Homo sapiens: one gene and its partner. The protein of the gene in region 2 interacts with the protein of the main gene of each other region in a biochemical or structural test. Each region holds a gene or a part of one and is shown on either strand. Other genes may lie near its edges. The genes, in order: RGS7 and CHRM3.

Evidence for each region.
Region 1: the proteins of CHRM3 (region 2) and RGS7 form a complex in vitro, tested with the Homo sapiens proteins (one study listed by BioGRID).

What each region holds. Positions count from the first base shown.
Region 1 is NC_000001.11:240,799,491-240,810,120, reverse strand, and holds part of RGS7 (regulator of G-protein signaling 7), read left to right. Parts: intron 1-3,794; coding exon 3,795-3,981; intron 3,982-7,127; coding exon 7,128-7,217; intron 7,218-8,612; coding exon 8,613-8,666; intron 8,667-9,399; coding exon 9,400-9,474; 3' UTR 9,475-9,480; intron 9,481-10,630. UniProt on the Homo sapiens protein: GTPase activator component of the RGS7-GNB5 complex that regulates G protein-coupled receptor signaling cascades.
Region 2 is NC_000001.11:239,388,151-239,398,780, reverse strand, and holds part of CHRM3 (muscarinic acetylcholine receptor M3), read right to left. Parts: intron 1-10,630.

The DNA of each region.
Region 1 (10,630 bases), 1.4 Mb from region 2:
CTTCTAGGCTAAGAGCTGGACAATGGGGAGGAGATAAACCATCAAAACAGGAAGAGAGAAGATGCCTTTGGAAAAAGAGGATAGCATGTGCATACTAGGTTTCAGGCATGAATTGAATTCCTGCCAATTTCTTAGTTCAAGCTTTAATCATTTCATATCTTAATCATTCTATGCCGTACTAGACTCTAGGCTAAGTGATTATATCTAAGAAATATTAGATTATCTTATATATATACACACACATTATATACATACACACATATACATATATTTCTTGAGTATCTACTATATTGCCTATCATATGTTTCCTTAGTAAGTATAGATCAGTAGATAAATGAAAGATGTAGATTAATTCTTGAATACCTACAAGACACCAGAATATATTTTATATCTACTACTTTTATAAGTATGCTGTTATATTTTGCATTCATTATTTCTGATCATCACACATCCAACCACCAAAACAACATAAAATGTAAATATTGCCTCATTTTATAGATGAGAAAAGCGTGGCTGAGGAAGGTTAAGCCGAGAAAGTGTGGCTAAGGAGGTCAGATTGCATGTAAGTGGCATTCTTGGTTTCCTACAAACCAGTACCAAGCTACTGTCCACTGCTCCCCAAATCTGAGCCCTACTCTGCTTCCACTGACATATCTGTGTCACACACTGAAGGAGACAAAATGGTCCAGTGGTCAACAGGGCTGTGAATTGCACTTAAAATAAAATAACTCTCCGTGCATCTTACCTAAACAGCTGCCCTCCTGCTATCAGTGAGTGTGTCACTCGTCTGAGCATTTTTTTTCAAATATTAGGACAGGAAAAAAATAAGAAGCACTGTTTCTCGATAACTACTTATGCTTCAAATATACCCTCTGCTCTCCCTAATAGAGAGCAGAAACTTGAAATTTTATGATGTATTTCCCTCATTCTTTTTTTTGAGCAAAACACATAGCATAGAGCAAGTGCTAAGAAAACATAGTAATATCATGAGTTTTTATCTTTGAGTGACTAAAAATATGCCAAGTACTTTTCAGTGCCTTCTATATAATTTATATCATTAGTATACATTAACGGAATTAATTTAATCAACTAATCCAATGGAAACCAATTAATCCAGTGGAAACCCAGTGAAATAGGCGTTATCATCCCATTTTACTGATGAGGAAATCAAGAATCAAAGACATTAAAAATACTTACTTAGCTTCCACCTATATAAAGGATATAGGATTTTTTTTTTTTTTTAAGAGAGATGGGATCTTTCTCTGACACCCAGGCTGCAGTTCAGAGACACTGTCATAGCTCATAGCAGCCTTGAAATCCTGGGCTCAACTGATCCTCCCACCTCAGCCTCCTGAGTAGCTAGGACCACAGGTGCAAGCCATTGCACCTGGCTCCTCCATGCTATTAAGCTATTACAATAATTACAGTAATGGTGAGAATAAGAAAGGCAATGATGCTGTTAGAAAGACCGTGTGAGGGAGTGGTTGTGAGCATGTCATCTGCTGCAGATCTTCTGGGAGCAAACCTCAGCTGTGACAGTAATAGTGAGCAACCTTAAATAAGCAACTTAATCTTCATATGCTTAGTTTCCTCTTCTCTAAAATGAGGGAAATAATAGAACTTGCCTAATAGAATTACTGTGGGAATTAAATGAGTTAATATAGGTGAATCACTTAGAGCAGTGCCTGCACTTACATAACAGTGTAGGTGTGGTTATTAACTTCTCAACCCCTTTATATTTTATGCTTATTTCCAGGCCCATTTCAGATGTCACTGGATTTAGAATAGCTTTGTCTAGATCCCCCTTTTCCAATCCAGCACTTGCCCCAGCAGAGGGGCTCTTTCCTGCTTGCCTTTCCCAGACCGTCTAGTTCGTTCTCTTCCTAGAGAGCCATTCATGTACTTCCTGGTGTTACGGCCAATTAAATGGTTTATCTTTTTCTCTACTCATTCTTTGAGGACAGAGACTGTTTTGATTGATGTGTTCAGAGTGTGCTGGCATGAACTTGCCTGAGCATATGTTAATTTCAACACTTCTGCTCCCTCGGATTATGCGTAGTATTCCCTTTTTTTTTTTTTTTTTTTGAGATGAAGTTTTGCTCTTGTTGCCCAGGCTAGAGTGCAATGGCATGATCTCTGCTCACTGCAACCTCCACTTTCCGGGTTCAAGCGATTCTCGTGCCTCAGCCTCCCGAGTAGCTGGGATTATGGGCATTCGCCACCACACCCAGCTAATTTTTGTATTATTAGTAGAGATGGGGTTTCACCATGTTGGCCAGGCTGATCTCAAACTCCCGACCTCAGGTTATCTGCCCGCCTCAGCCTCCCAAAGTGCTGGGATTACAGACGTGAGCCACCATGCCCAGCCTCGCATAGTATTCCTATTAGAGTGCACAGTGTCTAAATCTGTGTTTTAAGAGGGAAAGGTCTTGAGCCTTCCTTTCTAAAAGTCATGGTGGTAGTTTCCTGTTTGAGGCGTTGTCAAACTTAGATTATCCTCTGCTACATATATCTATAAAAAAACAAAATCTGGAAATGAAAACTCAAAAATCACTAGACTGAGTAGTAGTTGATATTCTAATTCTAGCTCATGCACTTCATTACTGATTTCTGATTATTTATTAATGGTCAAGTTAAAGCTTAGTAGTTACGAAGGTACTGCTGATCACCTGTGCCTCTCTTAAGACTCTGTAGCCTGAAGTTTGCTGTCTCTGTGGCCCTCTTTGCCTTTCTTTGACTTCGTCTACTATTAGAGCAGTAAGAGTGTTTATGGAGGATAACACAGTCCTAGCAGCTCCTTTTTCTAGTAGAGTGTTTGTTTCTATTAACAAATTATGATATACTCATTTATCTTTTAAACATTATTTCTAGAGATCTAACCAGCAAGCTCTAGCCTAGAGCAAAATATTGAAGAAATGCAACCGATTAATACAATGTGGCCCCTTCTCACTAGACTTTACCACTTGCTATTATCAACCAAAACACACTCCCAGGTTCTTTCAGTATACATATGGTATAAATAAGTCTATCTTCAGAAGTAAGTCAGTATATATTATTCCGTGGCTTCTGAATTGCAATGATGCCTCTACACATTTCAACTTTTCAAATAATTCCATGTGAAAGCTTGCTGCTTTGGTCATTCCATAACTCTCTCAATTAAATTACCTTAACATTAGTTAATTGTTTTTATTTTTCCAGCCAGAGCATTTTCTGATCTTATGTCCAGGCCTCTTTTAACTCCAGCAAAGCTTCTTTGTAATTCCCTTACCACCTAGAACAGAAAAGGCTCTCCATACTAGCCCCCATTGCTGAAATGGACAGAACATCCAAAGAACACAGTGTAATGCACAGCTTTATCTCCCAATTGGAGGCTCCATGTCCCACACCTTTAATTCCCTTCAAACTCCTCTTTGTTTTCAATCAACAGTCAGAAGTGCTACTTTCCTTAGGTAAAATCAGTGTTATACGGGGCTCTGACAGATCTGCTTTTAACAACAAACACTTAGAAGAGAGAGTTTTTCATGTTTCTTTATATTTTTATTAATATTTTTTATTTATATTTTTAAAATATTTTTATTAATATTTTTATATTTTTATTAATAATTATTTTTCATAATAATCTTCCAAAGAAGATTATCCTTTGAACACAGTCAGTACCACCCTGATACTGGAAGCCCTCAGAGAAAGTGAGCTGGCTGTGAGTCGTCATGATGAACTGCATGATCCGTAAATGTCACAAGAATTTTCAGATGATGGGCCATCAGAGTAAACACCCGATCTCACATTCTGCATAGATTCTGGCTGGCAGTGGAGGACCTGAAAAAGAGGCCTATTAAAGAAGTACCCTCAAGAGTTCAGGAAATATGGCAAGAGTTTCTGGCTCCCGGAGCCCCCAGTGCTATTAACTTGGATTCCAAGAGTTATGACAAAACCACACAGAACGTGAAGGAACCTGGACGATACACATTTGAAGATGCTCAGGTGGGTGTACGGTGAGCCTCACACCACAAACGTGCTTCCGAGAAGTTGAGCGTTAGATGTATTCATTTTATTTTCATTCTAAATGGCAGCTATTTCTAACATTTTCAATTTAGATAACTGTAAAATAACTCTAACTGATCTAGGAAGGAACAAAGACACATTAAACTGAATAGTTTTTTTAAAACCTGGGAATATTTTCTAAGTTTGAATATTTTTATATGAAGGGGCATATTTGAAATATTTTACAACTTTTACTTCATTTTCTACTCTGTTTGTCCCCCCAGTAAGTGAGCAAACACCATCTAATGATGACCCCACCTCAGTAAAAGATTTTTTAAAACATTTTTTTAAAAAGATTTAAAATCTTTAAGGCATCTTCAATGTAGACATTCTAAGACTCTGACATTCCTGAATTATTCATTATTATAAATTATTCAAACTGAATTAGCTTAAAGTTATGTCAAACTCAAACCAGTTTTATCTCTGGTGAAAAAAAAAATCAAACATTAGATTCTGACATTTCTTAAATTTTCAAGTTAATTTTTTAGCCTACAGAAAGAAAAAATAAGGAAAACTGATTCTAACTTCCTAAGGCAAATTTTCAGTCATCTTTTCTCAAACTGGATCTTAATTCCCTTTGTAGAAACAACTTGAATTTCTGCCTTCTCTCAAAAAATGTTGAAACTTAAGAAGAAAAATAAACTTGTAATGAGGGGATAGTGTTTCCTAATAATGTGGTATTTTATTTTATTTTATTTTATTTTTGGAAACAAGTTCTCTCTCTGTTACCTACAGTGGCATGATCATGGCTCGCTATAGCCTTGGCCTCCCAGGCTTAAGCAATCCTCCTACCTCAGCCTCCCAAGTAGCTGGGACCATAGGCATGCACCACCATGCCTGGCTAATTTTTTTTTATTTTTTTTTGTAGAGACAGGGTGGGTCTCCCTATGTTGCCCAGGCTGGTCTCCAACTCCTGGGCTCAAGCAATCCTCCCACCTTAGCCTCTCAGAGTGCTGGGATTACAGGCATAAGCCACTGCACCCACTCCCTAATGATGTGTTGAAGTTGGTTTTTAAATCAGAACGTGCATACTTCATAACTTCTTAAACTTCTTTTGGAGAAGAATATTAATTCTAAAAAGTACCTTTTAAAAAACACACATTACTAAAATAAAATATAGAAGATGAAGAATGAGATACACGAATATCCTTCCTTATTTCCACTCTCTATAGAAAATATATTTCTCCTTGGCTTTCATTTAAAGAAATCAGCAACTGTGTAGTAAACTAACATGAATTTTAACAGCTAACTGGATACCTATCCCATGTGGTTCAGCCATGGTCTCCAATGTAGAAATAATTACACTCTAGAGAGACACAGGACAGAGAGCAGGCCAGAAACTCTGGCCCTGCTGCTCACTTCTCTGCTGATTTTTCTTTCTTTCAGTCCAAGATAAAATGCCGAGCATCTTTCTAGAGCCAACAATGTGGAAAATGTTTGGAATGCCCTTCCTGAGGTTTAAAATAGAATTTTTTTTAGTTATCGGTGTCATTTAAAAATATTCTTGCCTAAGAGGATCCTCTTTTCTTACAGAAAAAAAAATTCTATAGAAAACAATACCACTTGGCCCTAGATTTCTTTTTCAGTTAAGCTCAGATATTTAATTCTAGTTTTTTTTGTGGTTTTTAAAAAAAATCTGATCGTAAGGTAAATTGCCTGGGTTCTGATTTCAGCTCTGCTCTGTGACCACTTCTCCACGCCTCAGTTTCTTCACCTGTAAAATGGACATAATGGTTACCAACCCCATAGGGGTTTTGTAAGGCTTATATTAACTAATACAGGAAAGCACTTAAAAGAGTACCTGCCATATACCCAAGTATATTTGAGCACTTACTATCCACACCCCATGCTTTGCTACACATTTATTATTCCTTTAATCATCACAACAATGCTATTTTATAGATGAGAAAATTAAGGATCAGAGAGATGAAAAAGTTGGCCTATATTTATCCCATTTGTAAGTGGTAGTTCTTGAGCAAGGTAGAATGTGAATCTCAAAATGCTTAACTCCAAAACCAGCCATTGCTCTACTTTTCAAACAAATTCCCATACAGTTCCAAACTTAACATCCTTTGAAGATCACCATTGGGCTAAGTCTTGAGATTTAATCCTGAATGTCTTTAAATGAATTTAAAGTAACTTCAAATTATTGCTGTTGTGTTTAAGACCAGAGAACTGGAGTCATTTCTTGAAACATCTATTTTCTTCAAGAAAAAAAAAAAGAAAGAAAAGAAAACTGGAACATTCAGAATGCTCTCCAATAGTTCCAAGCTCTACACCTAACTGATATTTCACTAGAGTTGGAAGATCAAGGCACATGTTAGCTCCCTGAGCTGCGGTAGACCAGAGTGGAACCTCCCTAGATTGGGTCTAGATTGAATTGAATGAGTACCTTTTTCCTTTTTTTTTTTTGACTTGTCTATCAAAATTCATCATCAAAACAGAATATTGCAAACTTCTTAGGGGCAAATGATCAACTATTTACCTAATCTGTCACTGGGTAAGTAATAAGAAAGAGCACACAAATTTGGAGATTTAGCAATTAAATATCACAAAATTTATTTTTGGACTTGTGCTCTGACCCAAAGTGGGTATGGAAGACAATTTTCCATGCAATTTGTACCAAAGAGATGATTTGATTCTTCTGGGTAGTTGGCACCCTCCCAGTAAATGTAGAGGCCAAAGGTATCCAGGATGATTACTCAGTCTGAGTCAACATTACCCACTTCAGGCCTGGAGTAGTTTTAAGAGACAGCAAATTTAGTTATATTCTCTAGTGATCTATATAAGTCAACAACTTGATTTGAGGTAATTTTATGACATTTTATTAATCAAATTCCATTTTTGTAATGACTGGATGTGATTTGCCTCCTCAGTAGCTCCTAAACCAATTTAAACAATGATCTATGAATGAGATAATGAATTTGAAGATCTAAATATCCTGTAAATAGAAGGTATTCTAATCAGCATTGTTATTACTATTTTTCGCTGCTACTAGATTTGTTCTTTAGCCATGTGTGACATCATGATATTTTACTTTTCCCAAGAAATCATAAAGAAGCACCTCAACCATTATTTCTTTTTAGGAGCACATTTACAAACTGATGAAAAGTGATTCATACCCACGTTTTATAAGATCCAGTGCCTATCAGGAGCTTCTACAGGCAAAGAAAAAGGTACTGGTTTTTTGTGAGTTGTTTTTTCTTGGCCTAGTTCTCAGTTATAATTATTTGGAGTAATTACCTCTGCTGAATCCAGGGTATTGGACTAATGGTAAGTGAACATACTCCAAGACCCTCCCCCAAACCTTTGCATTTTATAAGGGCCATTTAAGTTGTTTCTGTTTGTTTATTGCTTATTGTATTACTTTCTGTTTGTTTGTTTCTGCAGATGTTCATGCTTTGCAAAATTTATTAGAAGCTGTTTTCATGTTTCATGTTAGTCTTCTGTATGCCTAGTTTCATGGAATCAAAATTACAATAAAGAAAAGAAAGTAACAAAGTCATTAGGTCAAAAACTTGAAGAGAGGTTTCTTTGTTTAGTAAGCTAGAATGTATGTTTTGAACCACAGGCCTCATAACTGAAAGTAGACTCACCTTTTTCAATAATAGATGACAAAATGTCGGAATGTTTGCTTCCGAATATTTTTATTTGGCATTTATCCTGAATCACTTAATATCCCTGTGATGAATTTTATACACCTAGCATGGTAGCCAAGCACATTATGGGGGTATTGTAGTAGACCTCATTATTCAACAATGTTAATAATCAATGTCTCTCTGTTCATAACTCCTTATGTAATCAATATAACAGGGAAGAGAAAATCTGGACATAAACATCAACGTCATTCATTCTTTTTAATGTTAAAATAGTTCATAGCTTCTTGAAACTCTGAGTTTAAATTATAATTTTGTGTAGTTCATGATCGTCATGTAGGCTAATAAGATTTTTAAAAGTCCATTGCCTTTACAACTAGAAATGGATACTTTGTAGTAACACTATCCAGTACAGCAGTCACTAGCCACGTGGGACTGTTTAAATATTAGTTAATTAAAATTATATAACATTCTAGCCAAATTTCAAGTGCTCAGTAACCACAGCTAGGGGCTTCTGTATTGGACAGCATAGAATGAGATTTCCATCCTTTTGGAAAGTTCTATTAGACATTAATGCTCTATGGAATTAATGATGTTGTCAATAGGAATTTTTTCTCATAAAAGTTTTGAGGAAATTCTGAGGATATGCTGCTAGATTTTTAAATATTTAGGCTCTGCAAATGTCAGTATAAAGGCTTCACATATCCACTTTATTTTGGCTGAATTTGATTTTGCTTGAATCACACCATTTTGTTTGTACAAGGAAAGTTTTTGGTGTAAGCAGAGCCCATGTCCTGTGAGAAGAAGCCTCCCTTGGCGGCTCTCCAACCTCTATGGGCCTTCTGATTTAGAACATGGATTTGGTGTTGCATCATTTCATTATCCTGTCTTTTTCTGCTCTGTTTTCCTTGCTTTCTTTCTTTTTTTTAATCTTCCCTTATTTCCCTTCATCCTATCCTACCCCACATACGTAAGTCTGGAAACTCAATGGATCGCAGAACATCTTTTGAAAAATTTGCACAGAATGTGGTAAGTTTAATTTTTTGAGGAATTATGAATCATTAAGTCCAATGAAATTTTTCCAATTTCCCTATTTCTAGCCCTGTTACCCACCTTGCATTCTTGATATAACAGCAAAAGTGTTTCTTTTATTCAAATTCAGAACTTCATGTTTTCTGCTTATCTTTCTGTCCCATCCCTTTCCAAAGTAGAAAAAGATGTTATATATGAACAAGTTATCTGTACAGAATTAAAGTTTGGAAAGAAGTTTATATTACAACATATAAAAGGAAGGAATAATAATTATTCTTTATATTTTATTTTTATTCCTTGTATTCCTTTCTTTATTAAAGATAGTGCATGTATTTCTATGCTCTTTCCCTTAGCCCTTCCTGAGGCTTAAAATGTTAAGAACAATGAGGGTTCTATGCGTTTTACTTCTGCAGAGAGAAAATGATCTACTGAGCAGTTTAAAATTAAAGATTTTATATGAGTGGTGGTTGGTGACAAGATATGCCCCACCAGAGACCCACTAGCCTGCCTTTCTTATTCCTTATTTTTCAGGAAGGTGTTGAAAACTGTTGCATAAATCACCTGAGAAACCAGTAGTTTTCCTACCAGTGTTTTCTTAGTATCTTGCCATGTGTTTTGATGATATATATTTGTTTGTAAGATTCTTTTTTTTGTATTGTGCCAGTGCCTTTGGAACTTTCTGACATTGTGTAAGCTCAAACTAAAGCCTTCAACACATTTATTTTTATAGGGCAGAAACATCCCTATTTTCCCATGCCATAAAAACTGTACACCAACACTGAGGGCCAGCACTAACCTGTTATGAAAAGAGGTAGAAAAATCTTGGTTTATACTCAAGTTTGTCTGCATTGTCTGTTGAGTTGTGTGGTTTAGCTCCATGCTGCTGTGTGTGTGTGTGTTGTGGCTTTTGCTGTGATGGCCAGTTCAGTGGAGTTATGTGTGTTGAAATGTGAGCAAACTGGATTCAACAAAGATAATGGCTTTTGTTTTCAGTTTCCTTCAAGGATCCTTGTGGTGGGGAATGTTACTCATTTCTACTTGTGAATTACCATTGCAACGGTACACAGAGTATTTGAAAGAATTTGAACAGTAATATATACTGTGAACATTCAATGTGATTGCATGAATTAAAGGGATGGAGAATGATGGACTCCAGGAATTAATCACATTGTAAATAAATTTTATGAAATTTTGGCTGGCACTATTGGAACCTCTGTTCTTTAATACAGAATTTTCTGAAGCATGCCTCATAAGTCACCATGGGGCAATAAAGACAATGTCAAACAATTCTCCAAGATTTTGCTGGAGAAAGTGACTATCAGATAATGTGAGGTACTCTGTGTATTGTTTAAGAAGCATTTCAAGTTAATCCTTTTCAAACGTAATGCTGACAGAATATACTGTTCTTGAAATTACAATGGAAATTTCTGTGATATAATTTAAAATAGTGATGTAACCTGGGGAAGATGGAAAGGGGAAGTCAAATGGTTGTCCTTCTTCCAACATCATATCTAACCCACTTCTCAAACTCTTAAAATAGTACCATATGGTCACACACTGCAAACTTTAAGAAAGGGCCAACAGGAAACAAGGGGAAGGGAGGACTGATCATCCACACCTTCAATCAAAATTCACACAATTGCCACCTCTATTCTAAACCATGTGCTATGTCTTGGGACCATGTAGAAAGTATAGACTTGCAGCCATGTCCAACCCTTTGAATGCAAGGACATTTTTGCTTATCTGTGGTGGTAGATGTTATAAAAATTATGCACAGACCTTTTTTTTAAGATTATTCGTCATTAGTGTTAGTGTATTTTATGTGTGGCCCAAGATAATTCTTCTTGCAATGTGGCCTAGGGAAGCCAAAAGGTTGGATATCCATGGTAGAGCTTGATCTCAAAGGTACCCAATGGTATAGACAAAATGTTAGGATGTACAAGGGAAAGATAAACAATTTC
Region 2 (10,630 bases):
GTCCACTGTGATTGAATGTTATTTTTAGGTCTAAGTTTCCTAGCAGCCAATGCAAAAATGAAATAAATATGCCTTAATTTTATTATCAGATAATTGCTCTTATTATTCCAAAGGAGGTTCAATTTTCACTTGTATTAAATTCTACAGGAAACACACAATCCATATGGGAGGAGACATATTAACTATACCAATGGACAAAATCTTCAGGGGTTTGATAGAAGATGTAGAAATATTCTTTATATTGGCCAGGCGTGGTGGCTCATGCCTGTAATCCCAGCACTTTTTGGGAGGCCGAGGCGGGCAGATCACTTGAGGTCAGGAGTTCGAGACCAGCCTGACCAACATGGTGAAACCCCGTTTCTACCAAAAATACAAAAATTAGCCAGGCGTGGTGGCACACGCCTGTAATCCCAGCTACTTGGGAGGCTGAGGCAGGAGAATCGCTTGAACCCAGGAGGCAGACGTTGCAGTGGGCCAAGATCATGCCATTGTACTCCAGCCTGGGTGAAAGAACGAAACTCCATCTCAAAAAGAAAAAAATACATTATTTATATAATTTCACTAACCCAGACTGCAAAAGTCTCCTATTGATTCAAAGTTGTAATCTTTTATTGTCTTACATTCTACTTTTAAGTTTCTTCTTCATAAGATACAGTCTCCTTTGCTGCTATCTCTAGGTTCCTCAAACATACTCCTGTCCTCCCTCTACCCAGGAAAATGACCTTCCCGAGTTCCACAACAGAACTATTTCTTAAATGACAAATATGGTATCAGTAACAAACATTCATCATTATGAAGACTTATCTCTCCAAAATTTCAAAGGGAATATTGATGTTTACTTCTAAAAGAATTTTCTTTTCAACAAATGCTTTATTGTGTGCCCCCAGTTACTGGCATTCTAAGACACGGCTCACATAACATTTTCCTTTTGTTTTTCACACTGCTTCTTCCTAAATTGTAGTTTTATTAAATACACTAAAATTTTTGGTATATCTTTTACAACATTTTCTATATATATATAGAAATATATATAGATATATTTTTATAGAATATATATTTATATATTTTATAGAAATATATATATATATATATAAATACATGTATTTTTTGAGACAGAGTCTCGCTCTGTTGCCCGGGCTGGAGTGCAGTGGCACGATCTCCGCTCACTGCAACCTCTGCCTCCCGGGTTCAAGAGATTCTCCTGCCTCAGCCTCCCAAGTAGCTGGGACTACATGCATGTGCCAGCACGCCCGGCTAATTTTTTGTATTTTTAGGAGAGAAGGGGTTTCACTGTGTTAGCCAGGATGGTCTCAATCTCCTGACCTCCTGATCCACCCATCTCGACCTCCCAAAGTGCTGGGATTACAGGCGTGAGCCACCACACCCGGCCACAACATTTTCTATATTTTTATTTCAAATTTATATTCATTAATGGAACAAAAAGTAATATACCTATACATATGTGTGTTAGATGATAGATAAATATGTACACATTCAGAATTCAAAATGAGTCACCTATTCTTTATGGAGCAAAATAATTTGAAAACTTACATTTCAGTATAAAATTGCAATCTGAGAGTTCACGTCATCAAATATGATAATTTTAACTTGTCATCAAAGATAAATGATTACTACTTCACCCGCAGTTCATCACTCAACATTAGCCTAAAGACATAAGTATAGCTTGGAACTTCCGGGGTAGTATTTGTGTCTTACTGTTACAGATCCGAAGTCTAGCACAATCTGAGGAGCAGAGAGAGAAATTGCTGAATAAAGGCATATTTAAGTGATCAGAAATTCAAAGCAAACATATTTCTACATTGCTAGGCCATTTTAAGCAGATTGGTTTTTATGCAGTTAAATCAGTCAATCTTTTGGAATAAGTTGCAGATTTTAAGAAGAGGAGATAGATTTACATTTAAAGTCAAGTTGCAAGAGTCTATTATTATCCCAGTTTTGTATAGAGTAAATGTTAGAATATGTATAGAAAAATATCAGAGGCAATCCTGTCGTGACATCAAACTGTTAACCATAGTTGTCTTTGGGGGCATTGGGTTATGGTGGACTTTTACTTTTGATATATATTTCCATAATGTTTGAATTTTTGTATGACATATATTACTTTTATAAGGAGACAAACAACAAAAACACTATATTTACTCTTTTCGAGACTGGATCTTGTTCTGTTGCCCAGGCTGGAGTGCAGTGGCACCATCACAGCTCACTGCAGCTTTGAACTAATGGGCTCAAGGGATCCTCCTTGCCTCAGCCTCCCATATAGCTGAGACTACAGGCAGGTGCACAATCAAATCCAGCTGATTTTTAATAATTTTTGTAGAGATTTTTTTTGCTAAGTTGCCCAGGTTGGTCTTCAACTTCTGGCCTCAAACCATCCTCCCACCTCAGCCTTCCAAAGTGAGCCACTGTGCCTGTTTACATATTTTATATGCGAATGTGCACACTGAGCATTTATGAAGAAGACTCTGCACTAGATACTTGAAAGCAGTCAAAGACCAACAAAACACAGCATCTTTCAAGGAGTTCACAGTCTGATATTTCAAACAATTTGTGGCACACACACACTAAAACCAAGAGTGAATGTAATCAGGGATAAAAGTGAGATTCTGATAGAGTAACAGAAGATGAATTCGTTTCAAGTGGTCCTTGACAAATTGCTAAAATTTGGATCCCTGATGATGTGGCACAAAGGGCATCCTATGCAGCAAGAGAACGTGGCAGAGGATGAGGATACCTGCAACAGCAAGTACCAGGGTAAAGTGAAGGGTGACCTTGAGACTTGAGACTGAACTCAACATGCAAACCCAAGCCATGAAATAGGGTGAAGCTGATGCGAGACATTTAGTCTTTATTCAACAGGCAATGGAAGGTGATGTCAAAGAAGGTGTTCAAGGGTAGGAGAAAGATGATCACATTTGGTCCTCAATAACAGTAATCTGTGTAAAATGGATCAAAGGCAATAATATGATCAATGAGATCATCTGGGAAGCTCAGAGACTAAGAAAAGATACAAAGCTAAAACATAAAGCCTTTCTTCTCAGTGTGGTCTGAGCACAGAGGAGCAGTATCTGCATCACCTGAAGGCTGGTTAGAAATGCAGATTCTCAGGCCCCAACCCAGCCCTCATGGATCAGAGTCTGCATTTTATCAAGATCCCTATGTGATCTGAATGCACATTTAAGTTGCAGAAATGATGAATTAAGATATTGGTAGCAGGAGGGGAAAGTAGCCAAGAAGGTTGAGATCTTACTTGGTTGAATCATTAGAATTCGGTACCTGGCTAAATGTAGGAGGTGAGGGAAGAGAATAAATCAAGATCACTTGATTTATTCATAACATTTGAGCTGTAGGATGGTCATGCTATTCATAGAAATAGGAACCCCAGGAGGGGAACAGGATGAGGAAGAAGGAGGGGAAGGCTGTGCTATCCAGCAAGCACATGGAAATGCTCCTTACTGAAGCCAAGTGACCCACATGGAAAGGGTATTTGAAATCGTGAAGACAGAGGCAGGTACAAAAGGAGAGGCAACGGAAGAGTATGGGAGTCAACCAGGGAGAAATTGCTGGAAAGCCCTACACTCTGCAGAAAATAGGGGTGGGGAACAGGAAGAAGAGAAAAGAACCAGAGGAGAGAAGAGAGCTAGGTAGGTATAATTCTCTGAAAATTAAGGGAGTTTAAAGGGATTGCTAAGAGATTAACCAGGACAGACAAGGAAGGGCTACCCGTTTTATGACTAAGAGGTTACAGGTGACTTTTGGAGAAGTCATTGCTATAAACCTCATGAAGGTGGATGAGAGGAGTCAAAAGATTTAAAGTCAGAGGGTAATGAGATTAGGGGAGTGTGATTGCTGTTCGGTGAGTGTAATTGAAAAGGTTAAGAAAAATCATGAAAATTTAGAAGTGGCACATAGGACCAGGTTGAAATAACTTTAAACTTCTCAACTTTAAAGATTTTCTTGTGGAAGAAAGATCAGAAGTGTTCTCATCATAATTCTCAGAATTATTAAGAAGGCAAATAAGTACAATGAGAATTAGATTTTTGGCTCAATATAAAGGGGATCTGCATCTCACTGCTCTGTGAAAATGGAATGACCCCCCTGGTGAGTGTTAATTTCTCAAACATACAGACTGCACAGTTTAACACAAGAGAGAGGTCCAAAGCCAAAAGTTGTTCATTAATGACATCTGCAGTGGTCTGAATGGCGGTCCCTCCAAAAGATGTGCCCACCTCCTAATCCCCAGGTTCTGTGATTACCTTATATGACAAAAGATGTGATGTGATGAAGTTAAAGCTCTTGAAAGGAGGAGCTTATCCTAGATTTTCTGGCTGGGACTTCACTGCAATCACACATATCCTTATAAGACAGGCATATACAGGAGGAGACAGTGAAAGAGGTGGAGGAGGCAACGTGACCACAGAAGCAGAGATTGGAATGATATGCTCACAAGTCAAGGAATGCAGATAGCTACCAGGAGCTGAAGGAAGAAAGGAAGGATTCTCCCCTAGGGTCTTTAGAGGAAGTGCAGTCTTGCCAACACCTTGATTTCAGACTTCTGGCTTCCAGAATTGTGAAAGAATAAACTTCTGTTTTAAAACCTAAGAAATTCACGCAACATCTAACATCCCCTTCCAACCCAGATTTGTTTAGTTACACTCACATTGATCATATGCTCTGAAAAGCAGAGCCCTTGACTTACTGTGTATCCAAAACAGAATGTCCATGGTACTTTGCACATTAGATGATACTGATATGAAAGATGTGATAATGGATGTATATACAACACCTATGTAAATGAACATAGGTGGATTAGATATAAAGAGATAGATAATTGATAGGTAGATAGATGGAATGATTGAGTCATTTACTCATTCTACTCAAACATGTATTTATTATATATTTACTTATATACTCTCATGAAGGTAACTTCTTTGGAGAGAATCAAAATAAATACTACCTGGGTTATCCTTGAGCATCAAATTTTATATTAAAAATGGTGAGTGCCACTAGTATTCAGAGTAGAGGGAAGTGATTTGTAGTTGTTTAGTCAGACCGATTTTCAGTTTCTAACATTCAAATGAATCAAGGGATTTAAAATAATTAGTCACAGGGAAAAACAGAATGATAGCTGCGCTCAAGGAAAGCTGGAAGAGTTTGGCTGGTCCTTGCATGATGGAAAGGATCTGGGGTGAGGAGAGAAGAAAGGAGGACTCCATATAAAGAAACATCATGGCCATTCCAGATTCCCATCACCTCTCCCTTCACACAAGCTACTGCATGTGGCATGTGTTATCGGGCATGTGAGAAAGCACAGGAAACACGGCAGGAGGATCATCACGTCTATTTCAAGTATGAGAACTTCTTTTCAATGTAAATCGTTTGAGAGACCTCCCACAACAGAAGTTGTGCTTTTAGACTATTTTGCACTAAGAAAATTGAAAAATCACAAAAAAGACTGTGTTCAATAACATTTTTAAATGACTATGGATATACATTTAAATATAGTCATCAACATATTGTCAATTTGAAGCCAAAAACCCAACAATATTTAATATTTATATGGGATCTTCTTTCTTTCTTTCTTTATTGAAGAGATGGGGGTCTTGCTATGTTGTCTAGGCTGGAGTACAGTGGCTATTCACAGGTGCAATCATAGTACATTATAACCTTGAACTCCTGGCCTCAAGTGATCTTCCTGCCTTAGCCTCCCGAGTACCTGGGACTACAGGTGTATGCCACTATGCTCAGCCAAAATTTATATGGATTGTGAGTCTACAAAATACCACTGGATTAGGTTTCAATGGAAGTGAGAGCTAGCTCGATGGAATGTCAAATGGCTGTGGGCAAGAATTGGCCTGTATGTATTAATAGTTAGCAGTAACCAGGTTTCCCTCCAGTCTGGATCCCATGGGCAATTCTAGTGGGAGAAAATGTACTCCAAAGTGACAAGTCTTAAAAAATGTAGACAAAGGCTGTTAGCAGCTCCTTTTTCCTACAGTTTAGTGACAGAATATTTTTATATGTATCTATGTCTATAGCCATAGCTACCTATGGTAAATTAGAAGGCTTCAGTAGAAGAGCACCAAAACACTTCACAGCCATAAATGCAGGGAAGTACACACTTGGTAGCCCCTCTCTCTGGGAACTCTCTCCAAAACAGGCTGAAAGTATTTCACCTTGGTTTAAACTCACCTGAATTTTATCTGAACAGCAGTAGTCGGCGGATATCCTGCCTGAACCAGGATGTCTACATTAGCACCACTTCCTGTGCTAGAGGTGACAGAAGGTAGACGATGTCATGGCTCAGCTGGCATGCCAAATTTCAAGGGAACAGTGGGGACAGGAAGCAGGCTAGGACTGGGCTAGAACAAATGACCTAATGAAGGATTAATTCTGTAGTGGATAGTCAGCCACTCAAATTACATTGCTTGGGAGAGGTGTGGAGAACTGAGATTTGATCCTGCCAACAATGACAGACAAGGAGAATTTATTTGTCAAGTGGAACCGGGCACTACAAGTCTCAGGCGGAAATGATGCACTGTCAGGAGAGGAGCTGTGCCTTAGGTCCAAGGGTTTGTCACACTGAGATTGAATCAGAGACAGAATAGAAAGAAAGGGGTCTTGCTCCTGGAGAGAAGTTCTTGGCAAGGGCGAGGCTGACTGCCAAGGTCATAGCTAAAATTTTCCCAGGCCAGACATTAAATCCAGTACTGAAAGTGCAAATTGAAAACTCAATAAAATCCTAGTCCTACGAAATGGTAAATATGACAGGAGTTAGAGAAACTGAGGTGAGGGGGGCATGAGAATTGCTAGAGCTCACTAGGGTTAGGACAGACTCTGCACTGGTTGTGGAATCAGAAGGGCCAGGCTCCTGAGTCCCATGCAGAGCAGGCTTGGAAAGGCAAGGTCTCAAAGCCCACAAGGCATCTGCCAGCTACTGTTTATCAAATTGGTTTTTGTTTTTTGTTTTTAATTTTTGGCCACCATTGTTTTTCTCAAAGTGTTCATATTCCGGATGGCTTCAGGATGAACTGGCACAATTGGTGAGAAGCTGGCAGGGGCTCAGAATATTCCTTCTGTTGACTTCCTGTCATCACTACTGGACCCTAGGTCTGTGTCAATGTGGCAAGCTGCAGCTGCAGCCTCAGCAGAGGAAGCTAAGAAGGTGCACGTCAGCCAGAGTCCTTGGCCTTCAGGAGGGGATGAGCGGGAAGTTCCAACAGGTGGGAGAATGCAGATCGCCAGCCTAAAAGAGAGAGCCTGCCAGAGGCTGGGGAATCTGCAAGCTGCCAAAACTTCTGGATAGAAAACAACACACAGAGGCCAAAAACTGAGCCAGAGGGCCACTACATACTGGCGCTCAGTGCTGTCCATCATGGTGTACTGAGGGGGCTCTGGGTTCCAATCAAGCACTGCATTTCAGAGTTTGTTCAAAAAGCACATCCACATGCACTGGATTCTCAAAACCAATCCATGGTATGGACAGGGCAACTACTATGGTCTTCAAGTGTACAGTGGGGAATGAAATGTTTGAGGTCACACAGTTATCACATAAGCCACATTATGGTTTAATATTTTCAATTGCTTCACCAAACCAAAATTACTATTATGATGATGATTATGTAGAGACAGAGTCTCAGACTCTCGTACAGGCTGGAGAGCAGTGGCATGATCCTGACTCACTGCAGTCTCGAACTTCTGCATTCAAGCTATCTTCCCACTGCATCTTCCTTAGTAGCTAGGAATACAGGTGCACGCCACCATGCCTGGCTAAGTTTTTACACTTTTTGTAGAGATGGGGTCTGGCTATGTTGCCTAGGCTGATCTTGATTTCCTTGCCTCATGTAATCCTCCTGCCTTGGCCTCCCAAACTGCTGCCATTACTGGCATGAGCCACTGTGCCCAGACCAAAATTATTTTTATTTCTTGCATTGAAGACAACACTAATGGAGATCTATACTGTCTGGGGCATGCAACTGCTAGGGAAGGTAGCAGGCTAACAGAGCTCTCCAGGTGCTAGTTCACTGATGAAAAGGGAAGCCTTTCATGAGGCAGAGAATTGCTTGAACCTGGGAGGCGGAGGTTGCAGTGAGTCAAGATCATGCCACTGCACTCTAACCTGGGCGACAGAGTGAGACTCCATCTCAAAAAAAAAAAAAAAAAGTGAGGGAAGCCTTTCATACCTGCACACCCTCTCCGTGGAGGGTGGGCAGAGGGAGCAATGCAGTGATGAGTGATTTGAAGAAATACTCTGCTTAGCATTTGATCTGAACAAAGATATATTCCCTAATGGAGAAGATAGGGCCTTTCAGACACCAGAAACTAACTTCTAATTTAACTGATTTTGCCTCCTGTCATATACATTAGATTATCTCTTCATAAAATTAAAACTTTCCATTGATGTTGAAATTTTATTCCAAAGTTCTGAAAGGCTAGTAATTTTTCAGAACAGGGCTTCTGCTGGACTTGCTGAACTTTATAGATGAAAAATATATTGCATCTAGGAAAACACTATATTAAACAATTAAGCATAAAGGCACATTTTATTATGCTGATTAACTTTTAAAAGTAAACGTGGTAGAGGGATTTGATTACAATTTTATTAAGCTCATAGATACCTTTTACAATAGTCTTATGTAAGGAGAATACATTTTAAATTCACAAACATAAAAGACAACATCTCTAGTTACTCACTGATCCTCCAAAATCACACTGTGAGAATAATGCTATTAGTCATCATATGATATAAAATCAGGTTCCATAAGTGAAGGACAGATACACTTCTCTGCATACTGATCAGTCTCCATCTTCATATGATTCACGGTTCATTCATCTCCTATCTAAAGTGCCACTACACCACAGCTGTTCCCAGTATAAACTTCCCGGCACTGCAAACAAGACCCAATTTCTTAATAGTCACACTGGAATCGTCCAGGCCATTTAGCAGTAAGCAACTGAGCTTGCCAATGTTAACAAAGTTATTAGGCAAGAACAATATGTTGGCTGGGAAAATGACAGAGATTTTAACTAAAAATCTGAAAATATGTATTACTTTATAATTTACAAATACATAAGGCAACTTTGCTTTTAACCATATCGTTTAACTTTCTGTCTATTCAATTTACAAGTGTGAATCTAAGAAATTCTATGTCTGCCAATTTCACATTTTTTCCATGCCCTCTTTCAACAGGTTGCCTGCAATTAAAGGCTAAAATATCATTAAAAGAACTTCACATTTTTACATACTCTAATTTATAACAAATTTTCTTTGTTAAGAAATTAAATCATTTGTCTTTATAAGGAAAAAATGAGAAGGTACACTCTAAAGAACTTTTACACATGCCTAAATAATCTTCAGAAGTAAATAATACTTTTGAAGTGACATTTTACTTCCCCCTACCCCAGAATAAAAGTAGGGTACTGAATATTCATCATAGATTTCTCTAAATTTTAAAGCAAACTTTCCTAAATAAGCTTAAATGTAGGTTTAATACAGAACTACTCATTATAACACTTGTTCTTTCTTTAAAACTTGACCAATTCCACATTTGCTCCTTTTCCCAAATTACATTTTTCCCTTACAATAATTTTCCACACAGAAAATTTATAAAGATTTTTCAAAGTCTACTTTTTATCTCATTTTCTTTTTCAACTGTCATGTTCATTCGATTAATGACGCAACGTTATTTAAAAAACAATATTTCGACATTGCTATTTTCGTGCTACATTCGATCTCATAATACCCCCCAACCTAGAGAAACATTCTAAATCCGACCGGCAATGTCATTATTTTTAAATTAGTAATTAAGCGAACGTTATATTTCCATATGGAAACCACTACAAAAATAACGTGCTTTCTAGCCCAACAATAGCTAATTATGTATTAAGCTAATTGAGACAAACCATGTAAACAAAATCTAAAGATAGACTATTCGGCGGTAGAAGCTATGATGTAAACCACATTTCTGTGGCATGTTGGAATGCACACTGAAGAAGCAGGCATGTTCCTTGCACATGTATACTTCGGGATATCAGCTCTTATAACAAGAGGGTGCACTCAACACCTCGTCTATCCCACAATATTTGGAACAGAAATACCTTAGTTTTTTATTAACGTGCTACCACTACAATACGCTTATATGCAGGTATCTGCTCTAGGTTTAGTTTTCCCCTTTCTGAACTATATGTTCATAGTCTCTCTTAAGTAAATACATGGGCATTGTTTTAAACACAGGAAATAATGATGAATGGTTCATGCGATATAACGATCTCACAATATGAAATTATCTGGACTATATAATCACTGCACCCAGTTAAAAATTATTTTTCAAATAGTAACCTACAAAGGTCAAAATGGGGGGAGGGGACAGGTTATCTGTCTTGGAACTCAGAGGGCAAGAGAGAAAGGAAAAGTCTGTGCAAAGCATATGGTGAAATAACCAGTGTTCTTAACCACACATCGCTTTGATAAATACATTTTTGTCCTAAAGAGGGCCGCCCTTTCACATTGCAAACACGGACACTGGCGGGGATCGAGGGGACATATCCTTGCAGCCTTTGGACAGGTTCCAGTAACACTTGCAGACAAATGAAGGTTTGCATTCTTGAAACC